Linked DNA regions of Homo sapiens. The protein of the gene in region 1 interacts with the protein of each later gene in a pairwise test. Each region holds a gene or a part of one and is shown on either strand. Other genes may lie near its edges.

The links. Proteins that work in one complex are often made in the same cells at the same time.
Region 2: the proteins of RCN2 (region 1) and UNG interact in binary tests that used the Homo sapiens proteins (3 or more experiments, as listed by UniProt).

What each region holds. Positions count from the first base shown.
Region 1 is NC_000015.10:76,927,239-76,934,752, forward strand, and holds the start of RCN2 (reticulocalbin-2 isoform a precursor), read left to right. Parts: upstream 1-4,510; 5' UTR 4,511-4,603; coding exon 4,604-4,747; intron 4,748-5,122; coding exon 5,123-5,228; intron 5,229-7,514.
Region 2 is NC_000012.12:109,100,573-109,107,599, reverse strand, and holds part of UNG (uracil-DNA glycosylase), read right to left. Parts: intron 5,699-7,027; coding exon 5,601-5,698; intron 4,762-5,600; coding exon 4,673-4,761; intron 4,168-4,672; coding exon 3,989-4,167; intron 1-3,988. UniProt on the Homo sapiens protein: Uracil-DNA glycosylase that hydrolyzes the N-glycosidic bond between uracil and deoxyribose in single- and double-stranded DNA (ssDNA and dsDNA) to release a free uracil residue and form an abasic (apurinic/apyrimidinic; AP) site.

The DNA.
Region 1 (7,514 bases):
TATAAATATTTATAAATTTATAAATTTATAATATATTTATAATATATAAATATATACAATATTTAATACTTTAAATAAAATATTTAATTTAAATATTAATATTAAATATTTAATTTAAATAAATATATAATTTAAATAATTTAAATATAATATTTAAAGATAAATAATATATAATTAATATATAATAAATTTATAAAATATAAATTATAAATAAATTTATAAATACAGACTTATAAATCTTTATAAATTATAAATACAGATTTATAAATTATCCTGTCTCAGGTATTTTGTTCTAGAAGCACAAATGGATTAGGATACTGCCTTTAGAAGTGTATATACTGTGCACAGAAAACCTCTGGAAAGTTATGCCCCAATGTTAATAGCAGTTATTTATGAGAATGGGATTTGAGATCTTTTTTTCTTTTTTCTTATTTGCATACACTGATTTTCCTAAAATAAACAAGTAAGCAAAAATAAACAAGTAAGCATGCATAACTTGTGTAACTCCTTTGTTTCTACACTGTCGCCCAGGCTGGAGTGCAGTGGCACGATCTCGGCTCACTGCCTCCTCTGCCTCCCAGGCTCAAGCCATCCTCCCACCCCAGCCTCCTGAGTAGCTAGGACTACAGGCACATGCCACTACACCCAACTAATATGCTTTTCCGTATTTTGTTTTTATAGATCTGGGGTTTTGCCATGTTTCCAAGGCTGATCTTGAACTCCTAGGCTCAAGCTATCTGCCTGCCTCAGCCTCCCAAAGTGCTGGGATTACAGGCATGAGCCACTGTGCCTGGCCAATTTTTAGTTTTATTTTTTAAACAGAAATTAACCTCAAAATCCCATAGACTTGAGTTTCATCCCGAATCAAAAAACCAAAGCCCAAATCAATCACAGTCCCCTGAACACCAACCACCTCGTGATGGAGCTGCAATCAGAGCAACTGCATTTTCTCTTCCTCAGTGAGATCTGTGAATACCTAAGACTTGAATGCATGGTGTGACTATAAAGCCACGCCTGAGTTTTCTTAAACACTCGAGAACTTATAAATTCAAGAAGTGCTGTCTTTCAAAGTCACTCTGCTTGTTTCAGCTTTGAATTTCCTCCATGAAATTGTCTTCAGAGCTGGTTTAGTAACGCCAAAGAAAATAAATTTCATTATAATTCAGAAGAAACACTTGCTTAAGTCACAGTCTTATTCCTCTTTTCATGCCCTCTTTCTTAGTGTTCTTTATTTTTATTGCTAATGTGTTTGACTAAGACCTCAAGGTCCTATTGTTGAAAACCTGGGGAAAAGAGTGTGGGAAGAGGTTCTGAGGCATAATAAAGCCTGGGGCTTGGGGAGGAGTACAGGGAGGGGGCTGGACAGTTTGAATGTGAGGCCCAAAAGTAAGGTGACCATATCATTTATCACCCCATTCTGGTATACTTTTGAGTGTGAAAGAGTCATGATTAATAATCATGTCAGGTCAACCAGGATGTATGATCACCCTATGTGAATAGGGAGAAAGTCAGGAAGGCACTCTAATATTTGTCCACTTGGGCTACCTTTAGGGCAAGAGATGCACCAGTATAACTGACCAAGGGCCATAAATGTGAATTGCCGGAAGTGGAGGATGGCTTCTATTTGAGGATGGAGCTATCATTACATTTGATCATTGGGACAGATCCATCTTTAATTTAGGGAAATCTTATTCAGTGAAAAAGTTACATTGAATTTCTTGAAAGTACTTCTAATAGGTTAAAAGATTTTGTGACTACTTACACATTCAGATACTCCTTGGAAATGAAAAGATTTTTAAGGCATTATAATACACCCACCCACCTACACATGTTCTTGTCACCTTCTAAGACTCCACCATAACCCTGGAATTCTCACATTTCCTTCTCCCCTCAAAAGACTGACAAAAGATTAAACAGCCAACAAAATCCCCCTAATTGCATGGTCATTCAGTCTAAGTTGTTCTCCCATTCACTGCCTTATAGTCTGTTCTTTTGTCTTGTGTTTTCCATCTGTGCAAAGCTGCAGTCTCATTGAGTTTGTTGGCTTTCCCACTTAAGTTGTTTATTGTACCAAATCTCATTCATTCTGGTGGAAATCAGCCTGTAACACAAGGGTCCATGCCATATATGTTAAATATTGCTTTGTTTTTTAAGCCACTGCTTATTGTAACACACATCTTACCAAATTCAAAAAGCAAGAAATCTACAAATCTTTCTTTCAATAGTTTCAAAGTTAACTTTATTACCCATAATACATACTTCTAAAAGAATGCCAGAATAGCTGAATTCATACATTTCACAAAAATTTATTGAGTTCCTCTTTTTTGTAGGTGCACTAGGAGAAATCACACAGTTCCCTACCTCAAGGCTCTCACAGCAAACAAATCTAAAAAAATGATTGAACTGTATACTTAACATTTGTGTACTTTAGGTAAATTATACCTCAATAAAAATATAAATAAAACCAATTTTGCTATATGCTATGGGCTTTTATAGGTCAAGAAAATTGATCTTTGGATTCTCATAACACATTTTTTTAAACAGGCTACTTATTTTAGATATTTATTTTTCCCCGAGTAGAATGGATTAATTACAAGTAATGACATTGGATCAGTCTTGCCTCTTTTAAGCATAGGCCTTTACTGTAATCTGCTTCCAAACAATCCCAATAAAATCGTTGATTTTAAGAGTCAAAAAGTTGCTCAGAGCCTTCTTCAGGGACTCTTAACTTTTTCTGCCACATGGATCCTTTGAAACTCTGATAAAAGCAAAGCTATAGACTTCCTCCCTGGAAATATACACATGCACCAAGATTTTGGGATAAACACACCACTGAAAACCATGCAGGGACCACTTAGGAACCCAAAGATCTCAAATTAAGATCCACTGAGATAACACAATCCTTTTCCTCCAGATGAAAGCAATAGACCCAGGGAGCGAAAACAGCCTGTTTAGGGGCTGAAGACAGAACCCAGCCTTCTGATACTGCTTACTCCACTGTCTCTTTAGATATCATTAAGTTCCCTTGGCCCCCAAAACTCCCATCTGTGGATCCCCTGAGTTTAGAAGAACTTCCACAGTACCTTGTAGCCTACCTTTTATAACTGGAGTCACGCCGGAAGCTGGTCAAAGTTTACCTTTTACTTATTGGAGAACAACAGGTACAAAGCAGAGTTTCTTATATTAAATTGGGACATTTTTCTCTTTTTTTCCTCAAAACCGAGAATGGAAGTGAAAATTAAAATCCAGCAATAAAGGGTTTTCTTTTTAGTTTAATGAAATCAACTCTAAAATTTGCTTTTATTTATATTCTGAAATTTAAAACTTTGTTCTTCGTTGATCTTTATAACATTGGAAAGATTGAACTTACACTTTGCTCTGTGAATCTTTCAATGGTTTGTGACCAAACCATAAATTTCAACCCGACCCAGGAAATTTCTGCGACTTGTGCCCACCCAGTTTTGCAGTTTGGAACAGAATTCTTGCTCCCAATCCAAATAGAGACTGAGAGAAATGAAAGAGGACCCAGAAAGCCTTTTCTTCTCTGTGAAAGGCCTGATCCTAAGTGGCGCAATCAATAAAGAAAAGGGTTCAAGGTGCAGCCTACAAATTTCTTAGAGTTTAATGTGTTCAGGTTGAGGTGGAGAAATTACATAAACCTGTGAATAGACATGGAATAGAAGCCATGTGTATATGCATTCTGTCCCTAAAGGTTTTGCTAGGTACTTACTAAGCTATTCCTTCTGTGCAATCATCTTTCGTTTTTCTACTTGTATGGATGAAAGCCTACCTTCACTGAACACTTCACCTTATGTGCCAGCTATTGTTCTAAACCCATTACATTATTTAATCTTCACGACAATTCTTTAAGGTAGTCTTATTACTATGCTCATTTTATAGATGAGCAAACAAGTTTTCAGGGGTCAAGAAATTTGAGCAAGTTCACATTAACTTGTAAATCACGAAATTGAGCATCAGATACAAGCATCTGGCTGCACTTCCTGAGTTTGTACGTCCTACTCTCATAAAATAGATACATTGAAGACTGAGAAAGAATACTGTTGGCCGATTCCTCAGGCAATAATTTTTTCGATATTGTATTGTTGTCTCAGAAACCTCCAGCCTCTCTCATTGATGGACGGTAGGAGGGGCACATGGAGTGGACCAGGAGTGGGCAGGAGTGGGGTGGGGGCGTGCTTTTAGAAGCGTTTCGGGGGAACGACAAGGCGCGGGTCGTAGAGGTCTACCCTCTCTGCAGTCCCAGCATGGCTCCTGGAGCTCTCTGGGCGGCCGCTGACCCCGACATCGCGGCGGCCCGCCCCCAGCGCCGCGCTGCCCAATCAGCGGCGCGGCCTGGTGCCCCGCCACTCCGCGCCGGCCATATAGGCCTCCTCCTGGCGCGCCTCCGCACCGCATTGGTGGACCGGCCCCCAGCCCGTCCATGGGCGTTGTGGCCGCCACCGCAGGTTCCGCCTCCCGTTCCCTCCGCCCTCAACGTACGTCGCACCGCCTCTCTGTAGCCGCCCGCGGAGCATCGCAGCCGGCCCGGGCCCCCGCCAGCCTCCCTCCTCGCGTCCCTCGGTGTCCTCCGCGGGCCGGCGCGATGCGGCTGGGCCCGAGGACCGCGGCGTTGGGGCTGCTGCTGCTGTGCGCCGCCGCGGCCGGCGCCGGCAAGGCCGAGGAGCTGCACTACCCGCTGGGCGAGCGCCGCAGCGACTACGACCGCGAGGCGCTGCTGGGCGTCCAGGTGAGGCGGCCAGGCCGGTGCTGGGAGGGCCGGGCCTCGCACCGCGGCTGCCGCGGGCTTTGTCCCGGGACAAAGGGGGGCGGCCGGGCGAGGCCTGGCAGGGGCGGCCTGACAATGGGGGCCGGGCGGCGCGGCACTCGCTCTCTGGGGGTCCTGGGGCCTGGAAAGCCTGAGGAGATAGCACGGCCCAAGAGCTGGATCCCTTCTACCCCTCAGATCATGGAGGGTGTGTAGGGGGTAGGGGCCTTGAAGTGCAGGTGCGGGTCACCCCGAAACCCTTTGGCAAGGGGGTCTTCTAGTAGCCCTGTTTTTCTCCACCATTTTGCCCCACTGATAGTAATGCTTGGCCCTCCTGTGTGTCGCTTCCCCCTAAAGGAAGATGTGGATGAATATGTTAAACTCGGCCACGAAGAGCAGCAAAAAAGACTGCAGGCGATCATAAAGAAAATCGACTTGGACTCAGATGGCTTTCTCACTGAAAGTAAGGACTGCCCTACACGACTAACAATGGAGACAAACACAAATATGTTAAGCAGCGGTGTCTGCTGAATGTATAGATTGCTAGTGTCCCAAGTTGGAAGTCCTGTGAGAAGGAGAAAAGGACATGGAGAATAGGCTTTATACTTACAAATCTTTAGACACTGAGAACCAAGTAAAACTCGGTGCTTTCTCCAGTTATATATAAACATCATTGACCCTGTACTCTATGTGGAAGTCACACCTTGAGACACCCTCTTTCTCACGTGACTTTTGTTAGTGTCAACAATATGATTTATTTTAGAGAAATATGCCCCAAAACTTTAAGGCAGTAAATGATTTATCGCTCTTTTGATATATGCTTCATTTAAATTTTAGGAATTTGCTTCTTTTTTTAAGCAAGTAGAAAAAGACCTGTTGCCTGTGAATTACGTTTATTATAACATTATACCAAAATGTTAGAGCTGGTAGGGGCCTTGGGATCATCTTGTCCACATCACTTTGTAGAGATGAAGAAATGAAGCACAGGGATAAGTGCCTTCTACAAATAAGTGGCAAAGCTGGACTAGAATCCAGGTATCCTGCTCTTAATTCAGGTTTTAATATCCTTCAGTTAAAAAAAAAAATCTGATGCTCTCAGGTAAATTCTCTAGTCAGAAATGAAATGCACAGACTATTAAAAGAATGTTCTAAATAAATTGCTGTGCAGTTGTCTCTCCCCATTGTTCAATTCAAATGATGTTCCCTGTCAGCGTTCCAAGTGGGTCCTCAGAAAAATTCAGGTTGTTATTGTGACTCTTAAGTTAGCTGTTTTTCTGTAACTCTCATTTAAATGCTGTTCACCATCAAGGAATTAAGTTGCTGGAGACAATTAAAAACTGGTAAATTTAAGATGTGCTGTCAATGACATATTCACATTGGAACCCTCTGGAAGATTAAGGGCTTTTTTCTTCCACTTAGTTAGACAATAATAACAAGACCTTTGGTCTCTGATTATCCAATCTAAGAATAAGTCAATCTTTGGTTATACTAGAGTAATCAAAGAACACAACACGTTGATTTGGAAGACTGCGTGGTACCTATCTGTCAAGACCTAGATATGTTCAAATATTTAATAGTAAGGTTTTAAGAAGTTTAAACTTAGAAAAGTTTTAGTCCAAATATTCATTATACAGATGAGAAGAAAAGCTTGAGATGGTAAACTACCCCCTGATGGCAAAGCTGAAGTGTGAACCCACATTTCTGATCCCTGTTCCATTCTGTTTTCTTCTATGCCATGGTGATCTCTTTAAATAAACTAGAAGAAAGATTCATGGTGCTTACGAAAGCCTTCATTCTACTTGAGGACCCTTAAGATAATTTTGGCAATTTGCTCTTTGAGGGCCAGGTCTGGAATCAGATGTTAAGAGGTAGCAAAACTCAGTAGGAGTTGGCTTTGAAGCCAGACAGGTTTGAATCTGGACTCTGCTATTTACTAGTTGTGAAGGCTTGGACTTTTCTGAACCTCAGTTTCCTCACCTGTATAATAGTGATGATTATAATTGCATTGTTTTGAAGATTAGAGGCAACATGTACAGAGGAACCTGATAAATGGTATACTCATGCTGTCCTCACAAATATTCGTGTTCGTCCCTCCCTTTGTTTCCTTTAACGTAGTTTAGTAAATATTTTTATGAATAGTTTTTTGTTTTTTTTTTTGAGGCAGAGTCTCGCTCTTGTCACCCATGTTGGCGTGCAGTAGTGTGATCTTGGCTCACTACAGCCTCTGCCACCCAGGTTCAAGTGATTCTTCTGTCTCAGCCTCCCAAGTAGCTGGGATTACAGGCACTGGCCACCATGCCCGGCTAATTTTTGTATTTTTAGTAGAGACGGGGTTTTACCCGAGACCAGGCTGGTCTCGAAATCCTGACCTTAGGTGATCCGCCTGCCTCAGCCTCCCAAAGTGCTGGGATTACAGGCGTGAGCCACTGAGCCCAGCCAAATAGATTTTTTAAAAGTTGATTGAAAAGTGAACATTTGAATTTTAGAAACTTTCCCATGCCTTCAGGTACCAAGTTAAGACAGATAGCTGTTGCAGGAAGGGCATAAATTGCTACCCATAACTTCGTTAAAATTTACTCCAGATGTTTTAACAACATATTTAAAGGTAATATACTGAAGCAGTATTCTCAGTCACTTGAATACCTTTTCAGAATTTAGGCCATATCTACTTAACCATCTATTATTTTCTTACTATAGTTTTAATTCAACTCACATAAAATTTATTTTAAAGGAAGACTTTATGTCACCT
Region 2 (7,027 bases), on another chromosome or scaffold:
GAACTGAGATCACGCCATTGCACTCCAGCCTGGGCAACAAGAGTGAAACTGTCTCAGAAAAAAAAAAAAAAAAAAAAAAAAGAGGAATAGTCAGTGGCCAGGTGTGGTAGCTCACGCCTGTAATCCCAGCACTTTGGGAGGCCGAGGCAGGAGGATCGTTTAAGTCCAGGAGTTCAAGAGCCAGCCTGGGCAACGTGGTGAAACCCTGTCTCCACAAAAAAAAATACAAAAATTAGCCAGGTGTGGTGGCGCACGCCTGTGGTCCCTGCTACTCAGGTGACTAAGGTGGGAGGATTGCTTGAGCCTGGGAGGTTGAGGCCGCAGTGAGTTGAGATCAAGCCAGTGCATTCCAGCCTGGGTGACAGAGCTAGACCCTGTTTCAAAAGAAAAAAAGCAATAGTCATACATCACCTAATGACAGGGATGCATTCTGAGAAGTGTGTTGTTAGGCAATTTCACTGCTATCCGTACACCACAGGGCATCTTTACACAAACCCAAATGGGATAACCTACCACTACACACCTAGGCTATATAGTGTAGCTTATTGCTCCTGGTCTACAAACCTGTGTAGCATGTTACTGTACTAAATACTATAGGCAACTGTGACACAATGGTAGGCATTTGTGTATCTAAACATAGAAAAGATGCAGTAAAAATATTTTTTATATATATATATATACACATATATATATACGTATATATATATGTGTATATATATATATGTTTTTTTTTTGAGATAGAGTCTCACTCTGTTGCCAGGCTGGAGTGCAGTGGCATGATCTCAGCTAACTGCAACCTCTGCCTCCCAAGTAGCTGGGACTACAGGCACACGCCGCCACACCTGGCTAATTTTTTGTATTTTAGTAGAGACAGGGTTTCACTATGTTGCCCAGGCTGGTCTCAAACTCCTGAGCTCAGACAATCCACTCGCCTCGGCCACCCAAAGTGCTGGGATAACAGGTATGAGCCACCACACCCGGCCAGAATATTATAATCTTATGGGACCATCGTCATATATACAGTTTATGACTGAAACATCATTATGTGGCAAATGACTACTTTGATTTTTTTAAAATATCAACTATAGTTATTTTAACAGGGAGATATAGACCATTTTTGTTTTCCTCTTCTTTTCTGTATATAAAAACTAACGAACAAATCACTGTTTCTCAAAACACTCTTGCCTTCAAGGGGCTCAGTCCAGGAGGGGCGATGAGGGGTGAGGACTAAAGCCAGGCAATCCAGTGTGGTTAAGAGTACAGAGCCTGGAGCCAGACTGCCCGGGGTCGAGGCCTACCTCTACCCTCAGTAGCTGTACCACAGAGAAGTTGCTGCAACTCTAAGCTGCTTCAGTTTTCATCTGTAGACTGGGAATAACAATACCGCCCAGCTTATGAAGTTACTGTGACCAATCAAATGAGGATCACAGGGGCTGAGTGTGATAAGAAGTCATGCACACCAAATGCTGAACACACACGCAAGCAGCACAGGCCCCTGTAAATGTCAGCCCTGCAGAGCTCTAAAGAATCCCAGAAGAAAATGACCTCTACACTGTAGGCAGAGAAAGCAGGATATGCAAAGGCAGGGAAGTGGGGCACCGTGAAAAAGTAAAGGGGAATGGGTCAGCCTAGGGATCGGAGTGCAAAGAGGGATAGAGTTAAGTCTGGGAGGCCGATTGGGGGCCACCCCTCTACCCCCCTGAAATCAGATCTTCAGCCTAAGGCAAGGCCTTCCAGGGAGAAAGCATCAGAACCCTCCAGGCAAGATCAGGTGAGGGCCTGAATGAAGGCAAAGGTGGTCAGGCAGGGGTAGATTTGGAGGGGGAAGAAAGAACACAGATATGAATGACTGACTGACTGGGAAGGTGGAAAAAAAGGACAGAAGAGGGGAGAAAGAGAGGTAGGCAGGTGTCAGTAATAGATCTGGCTGGACAACTGGGCAGATGATGGTGCTTTTTGCTGCTAGGGAGTGCAGAGGAGGAAGTTTAGTGAAGCATGGATGAGAAAAGGAGAAACTTCGTTTGGAAAATGTTGAATTTGGCATGTTCATGGGGCAGTAGTAACAAGGCACTCTATAGATCAGAAGAGACACTGGGCTGGAGATATGCAATTTGGCTTTAATGACCAAGCTACTTTAACAACTGTTTACTTTCAGACCAAACCATGATTAAAGATTACCAATATACTGCGGAAGAGCAACACTGGCCGTAAACCTCCCTAAGGGATAGAGATTAGCAATTACTCTCACGCACACTTCTTACATACCTAGATGATCACATCTTAGCAGTTCATACCAGTCAGATCTTAGGTCACTCATACAAGTGTATGCCTACCTCAAAGCCTTTCTGAGAGTTAAGTAAGATTCTGCATGCAAAGTACTCAACCTGGTCGGGTGCGGTGGCTTACATCTGTAATCCTAGCACTTTGGGAGACCAAGATGGGAGGATCGCTTGAGGTCAGGAGTTCAAGACCAGCCTTGTCAACATGGTGAAACCCAGTCTCTACTAAAAATAAAAAATATTAGCTGGGTGTGGTGGCAGGCAACTGTAATCCTAGCTACTCAGGAGGCTGAGGCAGGAGAAGTGCTTGAACCCAGGAGGCGAAGTTGCAGTGAGCCGAGATCATGCCACTGCACTCCAGCCTGGGTGACAGAAAGACTCCATCTCAAAAAACAAAAGTGCTCAACCTAGTACCCACACAAGGTAGGGGTTAAATATACGTGCACATTTCTGATACCCCCGTTACCTCCTGCTGATACACCAAAAACTATTGTCAGGTTACCTCTGCTAAGCCCTTGCCTTCGATCATTGAAGCATTTACTCTATAATTTCTCCCCCACCCAATGTCTCTCCCATTTGCCAGGGATGAACACACCCCTGGCTCGTCTCCTTCCCACCCCCTATCTCTCCCTCCTCCACTCTGCGGCTCTCCATCAAGCCTCCATCTCTAGTCCATCACGGTTCTCCTGGAGAAAGATGATGGTGACTCATGCCTGAAGGGCAGCAGTGGCGAATGAGAAGCAGTAGACTGGGGTGTTTTGGGAGGCAGAGTTGATGGGATTTACTGATGGGATGGAGGATTCAAGGATGACTTTTAGGTCTCTGATTTCCACAACCAGGTGTAGAAGTGCTTCAGTGAGTGAAGGGAAAGAGGGAGGTAGCAGATAGGGGGAAGATGTAGGGAGGGGAGCCACTGGTTTGGTCGTGTTGGGTATCTGCAATTAGACCTTGGGGTTAATAATGATCACCGATAGGCCGGGTGTGGTGGCTCATGCCTGTAATCCTAGCACTTTGGAGGTTGAGGAGGACAGATCGCTTGAGGTCAGGAGTTCAAAACCAGCCTGGCCAACATGGTGAAACCCTGTCTCTACTAAAAAATAAAAAAAAATCAGCCGGGTGTGGTGGCGGGCGCCTGTAGTCCCAGCTACTCGGGAGGCTGAGGCAGAATCACTTAAACCCAGCAGGCGGAGGTTGCAGTGAGCCAAAATCATACCACTGCACTACAGCCTGGGCAACAGAGCGAGACTCCATCAAAAAACAAAAAACCCAGAAACAAAACAATAATGATCACTGATAGTATTTTCATGGGCAAGTTAAATTTGTGATTGAGTGGAATTCTTTGTGTTTTCTATATGTTCCCAAATTTCTTGGAAGCCAGAAACATGCCTCATCCATCACTTGTTAAGTGAATGGTACCCAGGGACTTGTATCTTGTAGACACCAAGTTCATGCCTACAGCACCAACTGCATTCAGTCACAAGTTGGCCAGTTGCTTTGCTTTCCTCATACACAACTCATCACCCCTATAATTTGTCCAAATTCTTCTCAGTTTTCAATGGGAAACCCTTATAACAGGCCTAAGGGAAAATAAAAGTTATTTTATAACATGGATTTTCCAGGACCAAACACAGCAGGGACTCCTAGAATTCTTTACATTGTTTTTATAGTGTTAAAAAAAAAAGAAAAAAAAGAAAGAAAACAAAACATACCCTATCAATGGCACTGCCCTTCTTCTGAGCATAAGAGCCCCAGAGCAAGAAAACAAGGCCATTCGAGTTCTGATTTAGCCAGGACACAACTGCATCAGTGAACTGCTCCCAGCCTCGCTCCTTATGAGAGTTGGCTTGATGGGCACGAACCGTGAGGACAGCGTTGAGAAGGAGAACACCTATACACATGAGAGAAACAGGTTAAATGTAGGCTCAGGCAAATCAGCCCAATACCCAGCAACAGGAGCTAAATCCATGATGAAACCAATGCTTGATGGGATCCAGTGTAGCAAGCTGTGCTTCCCTGCTGCAGCCGGCATAATGGCAGCAGCCACTACCATCAACAATGGAGTCGGGGCTGGGCGTGGTGGCTTATGCCTGTAATCCCAGCACTTTGGGAAGCCGAGTCGGGCGGATCACCTGAGGTCAGGAGTTCGAGACCAGCCTGGCCAACATGGTGAAACCCTGTCTCTACTAAAAATACATTAAAAAATTAGCCAGCTATGGTGGCTCATGCCTGTGGTCCCAGCTACTCAGGAGGCTGAGGCATGAGAATCGCCTGAACCTGGGAGGCAGAGGTTGCAGTAAGCTGAGATTGCACCACTGCACTCTAGCCTGGGCAACAGAGTGAGACTCGGTCTCAAAAAAAAAAAAAAAAAAAAAATCTAGCAGTCGCTGGCTTACCTTGCTTGGCCCACCCAGATAAATCTCCATGGCCAGGATGAACAAAATCCTCTATGTCTGTAGACAACTCTTTATAAATGTTCTCCAAACTGAAAGCAAGCCACAAGAAAAACAAAAAACAGAATCTTAAGCATAATTTTGAAAGCTCAGTAACGTCTAAGACATATGTGAAAAGGTTAGAAGTTACAGCCAGCCCTTGGAAGGGACACTGGCACATATGGCGCCGATTAATGAGATCAACACTGCCAGTCCTCCTTCTAACAGGTGACTCTGCCAAAGACCTTTACTTTAGTCTGTACTTGGATTTAACAGCACTCTGGAAAACCTAAGTAAATCAACCCAGCAGTTACAACCCAGACCCCCACTGTTGCTCAGGGACAGTTTTCTGTCCTTAGCATATTTATGTATATCATACACCAAATCCTCCAAAAGCAGTGGTTCTTTTTTTTTTTTTTCCAGTCTTGCTGTGTCACCCAGGCTAGAGTGCAGTAGCAGGATCTCGGCTCACTGCCACCTCCGCCTCCCGGGATCCAGCGATTCTCCTGCCTCAGCCTCCCAAAGTGCTGGGATTACAGGCGTGAGTCACCGCGCCCGGCCCAAAGCAGTGGTTCTTAACCAGGGGTGATTTTACGCCCCCAAGGGACTTTTGGCAATGTCTGCACATTTTTCATTATCACGAGCTGGGGGTTGCTCCTGGTTTCCAGTGGTAGAGGCCAGGGATGTGGCACAAGATCCTGCAATAGCACAGGACTCCTCTCCTCCTCCACAACAAAGAATGACTCAGCCCCAAATGTCAATGGTGCTGAGGCCGAGAAATCCTCCTCCAAGGCTAGTGAACAGTGCCCCAGATAGTCCCACTTGTAATAAGCTAAGTACACATCTGAAAGGAATCATGTCTGGACTGCAGTCACCTGTAAAGCAACTGTACCTGGGCGGAGGCGGAACAGGCCTTTGAACACTAAAGCAGAGCCCGTGAGCTTGATTAGGTCCATGATATGGATCCTGTCCCAGGATGACAACCTTCACCTGTGAACCACCAGGGGTCAGGAATTAAACAATACTGTAATGTAAGCAGCACAGACCCTGCCTCAAACAAACATAAACAAAACAAATAAAACACTTCTATGGCATAGATTGCTAATAGCAGAGTTGCTGGTCAAAGGCTAAGCGTATTTTAAACTTGTAAAGATATGTACCTAGCTGCTTTTTTAATTTTTTGAGACACGGTTTTGCTGTGTTGCTCAGGCTGATGTGCAGTGGTGCCATCACAGCTCATGGCAGCCTCGCCCTCCTGGGCTCAAGTGGTCCTCCCACCTGAGCCTCCAGAGTAGCTGGGCCCACAGGAGTGCACCACTATGCCCACCTAATTTTTTTTTTACTTTTTGTAGACACACGGCCTCCCTTATGTTGCTGAGGCTGGTCTCAAATTCCTGAGATCAAGGGATCCTCCCTCCTCGGCCTCCCAAAATGCTGGGATTACAGGCATGAGCCACTGTGCCTAGCCCCCAGTTACTTTTCGATGAATTAAAGCAATTTAGGGCCTGGCATGGTGGCTCACGCCTGTAATCCCAGCACTTTGGGAGGCCGAGGTAGGCAGATCACGAGGTCAAGATATCGAAACCATCTGGCCAACATGGTGAAACCCCATCTCTACTAAAAATACAAAAATTAGCTGGGTGTGGTGGCGCACACCTGTAGTCCCAGCTACTCGGGAGGCTGAGGCAGGAGAATCGCTTGAACCCAGGGGGTGGAGGTTGCAGTAAGCCGAGATTGCACCACTGCACTCCATCTCAAAAAAAAAAAAAAAAAAAAAAAAAAAAAGCAATTCAGATTTCCCACCAGCAGCATATGAGGGTGTCTGCTCCCCTATATCCTCTAACAGGTGGAGCCAGAAGAGAATGAGGTCAGATCAAAAGGGCCATGGGAGTAGGTGGCAAGAGACAATGAAATGAAATGAAGTTCCTGTCACGGGAGGTGTTGAAACATAGGCCGCCTCGTCCTTCCCATCCAGGGCCCACCCACCTAGTCTTCATTCTCAAGCTTCTGCCATTGCGTTCTTAGAATCTTCCTCCACAGCTGACATACTCTATCTTTCAGAATCCAGCTCCAGATGTTCCATGACCAGGAGGCTTTTGGGGACCTCTTGTCCCTCCCCTTGGTGTTCACACCATGCCAACATATTCTCTTGTGAAACAACTCTCCCAATGCTGGTCTGTCAAGAAGCCCTGCTGGCCCATCTGATCCTCATAGGTTTGAAACTGGTTTTTGAGCATTCCCTCAAAATATTCCTTTTAATATTCCCTGTTTATACTGATTACTGGTATTCAGAATAGGGCATTCAAACAAGAAGCAAAT